Homo sapiens: one gene and its partner. The protein of the gene in region 1 purifies or fractionates together with the protein of each later gene. This does not show direct contact. Each region holds a gene or a part of one and is shown on either strand. Other genes may lie near its edges.

Evidence for each region.
Region 2: the proteins of BTN2A1 (region 1) and TMX4 purify together in Homo sapiens (affinity purification with mass spectrometry; 3 studies listed by BioGRID and IntAct, with this or other methods). This does not show direct contact.

What each region holds. Positions count from the first base shown.
Region 1 is NC_000006.12:26,460,845-26,464,499, forward strand, and holds part of BTN2A1 (butyrophilin subfamily 2 member A1 isoform 1 precursor), read left to right. Parts: intron 1-2,399; coding exon 2,400-2,681; intron 2,682-3,655.
Region 2 is NC_000020.11:7,985,171-7,988,825, reverse strand, and holds part of TMX4 (thioredoxin-related transmembrane protein 4 precursor), read left to right. Parts: intron 1-1,436; coding exon 1,437-1,538; intron 1,539-3,655.

The sequences.
Region 1 (3,655 bases):
GGTTGCAGGGAGCCGAGATCTTACCACATCACTCCAGCCTGGGCGACAGAGCAAGACTCTGTATCAAAAATTAAACAACAACAAAAAAGATATATTTGAGGACTGAAAAAGCCTTTAAGGTGCAGGATAATCTGTGGTGGCATTTCACTCCATCAGACCAGACAGAGGAGGTGAGGACTAGGGAATTGGGTCTTTCCCTGGGGGCCTCAAATCATAACAGGTAGGAGACCCCATCTTTGCTACACACAAAGGCAACCTTGCATCTGATTAAAGCAGAATATCATGGAAGGAGGGTTTCTTGACCCTGCATCATGACTGTGTTCATAGCAGCACTCCAGGGTTGACCAGTTATGGTTTCTGCGCGGCAGGAATCTGCCATTCTTTGCCTATAAAACTGACAGTGGCCTGGCCTTTCCCACTCTGAATTGGATTGCTTAGGACTTTTTGTTTGTTTGTTCATTGTATTCTCTTTGTTAGGTTGGTTGGTGGCTGATTTTGCCCTTAAATCTATTTTGTCATGCTTGCCTGTATTGAACCTCATAGAATGTTTTGAAGAATTTCGTTTTCCAATTTGCTGAGTTATTTTAATTCTTATTCCACTGAGCCTTTAAATGTACAAGTAGTTTTATCTCTTGATAAAAATTAAAGTGACCCTGGGCCGAGTGCAGTGATTCATGCCTGTAATCCTAGCATTTTGGGAGGCCAAGGCGGGTGGGTCATCCGAGGTCAGGCGCTGGAGACCAGCCTGGCCAACATGGTGAAACCCTGTCTTTACTAAAATTACAAAAAGTATCCAGGCATGGTGGCACATGCCTGTAGTCCCAGCTACTTGGGAGGCTGAGGCCAGAGAATCACTTGAATTCAGGTGGCCTAGGTTGCAATGAGCTGAGATCCTACCATTTCACTCTAGCCTGGGCTACAGAGCAAGACTCTGTCTAAAAAATAAATCAATAAATAAATAAATAAATAAAAATAAGCCTGGGCAACATGGCAAAATCCAGTCTCTACAAAAAGATACAAAAAAAAAGTAGCTGGGCATGGTGGCACATGCCTGTAGTCTCAGCTACTTGGGAGGCTGAGGTGGGAGGATCACCTGACCCTCAGAAATCGAGGATGCAGTGAGCCATGATCATGCTTCTGCATTCCAGCCCAGGCGATAGAGTGAGACTGTGTCAAAAAAAAAAATTTTTTTTTATTAAATTGAGCCAAAGCACCAGACTTAAGTTATTGATTTAATTTCCTGTCTTTGGTAAAATTCTTTGGGAGACTTTACAAAGGAATTACTCAGAAGAAGTTTAGATGGTCACACATGGCTGAAAGGTCTCCCAGGACCACGCTTTTGCAGCTCTTTCATACCTGGTGTTCACTCTTATGGAAGATTCATTTAAAGATGGATTGTAGTTAGGGTGAGTCTAGTTTCTTAGGATTTTTGGTGATGATCTCTGATATTGAAAAAGTGGTATGGTTATCTTAGTCCCTGGATCATCCAGATCTTTCTAATAAGTTGATGTTCTCCAAGTACTATAAGAAAATCACCCAGCCTGGGCAACATGTTAGCCAAGAATGGTGGAAAATGCCTGTAATCCTAGCTAGTTGGGAGACTGAAGCAGGAGGATCTCTTGAGCCCAGGAGTACAAGGCACAGTGAGCTATGATTTTGCCACTGCACTCCAACCTGGACAGCAGAGCTAAAACCCTGTCCCTAAAACAACAAAAGCAATACTGCCTAATGGATGGAGCCTCTGGGAGGTAAACAGTGTGAATTAGGATTAGAGTTGGATTTGCAGGCTAGATCTGTCAAGTCTCCTAAAAACCATCACCTCCTATGGGTGGTAGAAAGCGGTGGTTATGTGAAGTTCTGAACTAGACAGAAGGGTCAATGTCTTTGGATCAAAAGGTTTCTTAGGATTCTGCCCGCCTGGCAGACTTTCGTCCTTCTCGTTATTATTCTAGAGCTTCTGGAAGCTGAGGTCTACTGAGAAGTCGTCCCAGAAGCAGAAAGTGAAATCCAAAACCTGCCTGTTTGAAGTTGGAGTCGACACACCCATCTCAAAGTGAGAAAATTAGTCTGGCAGGATAAATTGAACAAGCATTTATGGCAGACAGATAGATGCTTGGTGCTGTGATGGGGCCTATAGGTGGACCGCAAAGAAAAGGGTGCAATGGGATCCTTTCCTCTTAGAGAGCTCACAGTTTATGTGGCCCATTGGCCTGCTGGTGTTCTCCAACATCAATGTTCTTTCTTCCTTACCCTCATCCTTTTTTTCTTCCTTCCTATTTCTTGTTTCCTATCTCCCTCTTTTTTACCTTTACTTTCTAGCTTCACAGAAGAGATGCAATAGGCACAGAAGAGATGCAAAAGGCACTGACTTTTGCCTGAACCCTGATATCTCTCCACAGGACTAGGCTCTAAGCCCCTCATTTCAATGAGGGGCCATGAAGACGGGGGCATCCGGCTGGAGTGCATATCTAGAGGGTGGTACCCAAAGCCCCTCACAGTGTGGAGGGACCCCTACGGTGGGGTTGCGCCTGCCCTGAAAGAGGTCTCCATGCCTGATGCAGACGGCCTCTTCATGGTCACCACGGCTGTGATCATCAGAGACAAGTCTGTGAGGAACATGTCCTGCTCTATCAACAACACCCTGCTCGGCCAGAAGAAAGAAAGTGTCATTTTTATTCCAGGTTAGTTCTCTGCCCTCTGAGACTCGTCGAGTGCATGGGGGATCCTCAGCACACAGATGGAGCCCAGAACGGGGATGGGGGCAGCAGTGTGGGTGAAATAGTCCTGGGCCCTAAGGACCTGGAGGCTGCAGCTGAGTGAAGCCTTTCCGCTTCTCACAAAAGGAGAATCAAAGTGTCCCAAAACTCAGGAGTAGGAGCCTCTTCTCTGAGGGTAAACCTGTTTTTGTTGTTGTTGTTGTTGTTGTTGTTGTTTTTCCCCCCAATAAGGTCCTTACACTGCTGCAATTTTTTTTTAAGACAAGTTCTTGCTCTGTCACACAGGCTAGCATGCAGTGGCACAATCTTGGCTCACTGCAACCTCCTCCTCCCAGGTTCAAGCAATTCTCATACCTCAGCCTCCCGAAGGCTAGGACTACAGGCACACGCCACCACACCCGGCTAATTTTTGTATTTTTAGTAGAGATGGGGATTTCACCTTGTTGACCAGGCTGTTCTCGAACTCCTGACCTCAAGTGATCCACCTGCCTCAGCCTTCCAAAGTGCTAGGATTACAGGCGTGAGCCACCATACCCGGCCAGCAATTTTTAGACATTGAAAACAACCATAACATATGGAGGGTGGTGTGGATAAGTGACTCTCTACACTTGGTGTTCCTGTATGCTGTAGCCATCCCTTCCTGTGCAGGGGATTTTCCACAGGACAGAGCTGTGGAAATTCCCTATAGACACACACTCACAATTCATTCAACAAATGGTCAAGAAGCATATCGTATGTTCAAAACACTGTTCTACCAAGGGTAAATCATTGAACAAATTATATTAAGAACTCTTCCCTCAAAAAGTGATTAGTTAGCTAACCATATATTCTATCAGATGGTAATGAACATCTATAGGAAACATTAAGCAAGGAAGGAATAAAGAGGCAATGTGAGACATTGCAATTCTTAACAGAATGGTCAGGGAAGACTTCACTGT
Region 2 (3,655 bases), on another chromosome or scaffold:
GTCTCGAACTCCTGACTTCGTGATCTGCCCGCCTCGGCCTCCCAAAGTGCTGGGATTACAGGCATGAGTCACCGTGTCCAGCCAAGTTACTCTTAATAAACAGTTGTCCTGGCTAAACACACACTGATGACCAGTGCCATCAACAGAGGACAGATGCCAGCTTTACAGTTTGAGAGTGTGTTTGCCTTTCGTATGAATAAATAGCTCAGGCATTTGATGCATCTTTTCCTTATTCAACAAATACTGATTGAACACTTTGATTCCATGTGTCAGTGTTTAAACTACTTGCTGCGTCTTTAGCTCTATCTCTTCTGCTGAATAAGAAATTGTAGAGAGATATTTCAGATTTTGCTAAATCAGTTTACAAGCTTTGTTCTTTATTTATCATTCCAAATTAAGCCAGAATAAAATATGTTTTTTAATTGCATTGACATAAACTAAGAAACCAATGGGAGTGATTTAGATTTTGAGAAATAGGAAATTAAAATAGAAACTTGGACTCATTTTCATCAACCTTACTGGTTCTAGGGAAGTCATTGTCATTACCTCTCTTGCTGATGATATTTGGAGCCATATCATCCTGTGTCCAGTAGTTACTTGAATTTTAATGGCCATTTTTGAAGCTGTCAGGGTCTTGAACAAATGACTAAGTGATTGTGAGGAAGCATGGCTCCTGCAACTCTACATCTAAGTAGGTTTTGACTTTGAAATAGCAAGTTCATATCTGTTAATTTCTTTATGATTTAGCATGTAAATACTTTCTAGCTGTGATTATGTCCCTTCACTCATTTTTAGAGTGTTTGTCATCAAATAGAGTCTTAGGGAACAGTAAGCATGAAGGGATATACACTCTATTCAAAGACTGCTGGAATCTCATTTGCTCATAATAAATTAATCAGAAAAACTTTCTTCTGTCTACTGTTACATTTTATGTTTTCTGGTAATTTACCAAACTTTGAAAGGATGAATAGGTGTAGAGCAATGAGAGTCTAATTAGGAAAAAGAGGTATGGAGACATTTTAAATGATTGACGTTCTGTAAGTCGTAATTTAGTTTTACTAAAAAGTCAGAGGCCCAAAAAGTTTAATTTTTTCATGAATGCCCTATTATAAGTAAACATTGAGATGTATATAATTATTAGGGGAGGAGGGCCAAAAGCATCCATCATGATGGAAGAAAGGACTATCAAAACGATTCTACCAGAATTCTATCCAGATTATGAACTCTAAGCAAGTATAACTTTTTTTTTAGTAATGACCTTAATTACTACTCTCAGTTTCCCAATATTATAAAATTGACTTGTTCTTTAAGAATCATTTAGATACATAAAGCTTTGTGGGAACCTATGTATGTAGAAACAACAGCTAGAGAGAGAGATTGAAATATTTTTGGTTCTCTTAAAAATTAATGTTTTATTTTTTTTCTTCTGATTCCAGCATCTTCACAACTATTTCACAGTGACTCTTGGAATTCCTGCTTGGTGTTCTTATGTCTTTTTCGTCATAGCCACCTTGGTTTTTGGCCTTTTTATGGGTCTGGTAAGAGATAATACCAAACTTTTTCTATCTTTAAGGCAAAATGAATTTCATGTACAAATAAAAGGCAGCCAAGAAAGAAAAAGCACATAAAAAATAGTATTTTGTGCAATCTAAGTAGTTAAATAGCATTTGCTTGTTTGAGACTGCTTTCAATGGTAATGTGAGATATAACAGAAAATTTATTAAATTCTTATCCCCTAATCCTATCCCTTAAGTATTTTGAAGATGTGTACTGCCTATAGACAGTAATTAAAAAAAAAAAAAAAAAGAGACCTTACTAGAATTGATAGTTTCTAAGACAACTGAGTCAGCTGTGATTTCACACATTGCCTGCTTAATTAGAAACACTGTAGTGATAAGGCCAAGGTTTTGAATTTGTTCCTTGTGTAGATGCAAGATTGTTGTTGTTGTTGTTCTTATCCTCCAGTTAAACTAATCCTGACTAGCCGCTTATGCATACACTCTGGTTTTCCTGAGATAGATAATGTAGTTAACACAACACAATTATTCTTTGGGCATGAAAATCAGTATGCAGTATATATCTCCCCAGGTATTTTCTCCCCAGGTATTTCAGGCAAGAGTTGAATAATAAATTTATTTATCTAACTACATAGGCAACTATAAATGTTCAGCATGTTGTACTTCTTGTTATTTTTTATTTCTCTTAACCTAATCTTGATTAGTTTGATTGCATTTTAAACCCTAATTAAACCAAAAAGTTTTTAAAAACCTTTATATTGTATACTAAACACATAGTTCCTAAACACTATAATGGGAATAATTGATGATTACTAAAAATTTATGTCAAAGAACAGACTTTAAGGTAAGATTATCTTAAAGTCTGTCCTTATATTTTATAATGAATTTTGGCTCTTTAGCAAGTTCTTTTTAAAAATGTTAACAATTGACTTATAGTAAGTCACAACCCCAAGAGGCCAAGGAGGCTCGATTTGACTTTTCTATGAACATGCTTAATACATATCATGGCTTATCTTTGAAACTTGGCTCCTGATGTTAACTTCAGGGATAAGAATGGGACTTACTTAGATATCTGTATATGTCCTTCATTAGGTCCTGGGTATGTTCTGTTCTGTTGCATTAATCTTTTTGCTAATTAACATGTCCCCATTGCTCCCGTCTAAAGGGATTTGACACCGGATATAAATAGAATGTGATTGTCTGTGCTTCTCCCATCTGTTGTCTGGTGCGAGATTTTTCTAGCAGTGTATTTTGGGGCTACCATAGTGTGAGGTTCTTGTAGGGGGAAACAGTATGAGGTCCCAGGCGAGTCAATGATGGAGTTATAGGGAATGTAGGTTGTGTGTGACCCTGTTGGAAGACTAGTGAAAATGCTTAGAGTTTTAGAATATTATTTTTGATGTTGACTTTAAGTCCATGAAATTGAGTCAGGCCTGCCTGCCTATGCCTTAGATTCCTTTGGAAACCTAGATTCAGATAATCAGTGTAGAAAGGTTATTGGAGGCTTGGCCTGAAGAAAGGAGAGAGTGATTCTAGCCTGTTCAAGTGATTAAGTGAGATAGACTACCCTTCCTTAATAAGAAAATAACTTTATTTAACAAAATATTATTAACTTTATTAACGAAATAATAATTTCAAAGCATATGAATCATAAATTATAAAAGATTCATACATTTACTGTTAATAAGTTTCCAAAAAATAACAAACACATATCTGTGTTCAAAGTACCTGTTTTAGGCTGGGCACAGTGGCTCAGGCCTGTAATCCTGGCACTCTGGGAGGCTGAGGCAGGTGGATCATTTGAGCCCAGGAGTTTGAGACCAGCCTTGGCAACATGGTAAAACCCTGTCTCTACAAAAATACAAAAATTAGCCTGGCATGGTGGCACACACCTGTAGTCCCAGCTACTCGGGAGGCTGAGGTGGGAGGATCACTTGAGCCCAGGAGTTCGAGGCTGCTGTGAGCCATAATCTTGCCACTGTACTCCAGCCTGGGTGACAGAGCTAGACCCTGTCTCAAAAAAAAAAAAAATATATATATATATATATATACACACACACACATATATATACACACACACACAGAATGCCTTTTCTATAACTGTTAAGTATATTAAAGTAAACACACAACTGCTAGAA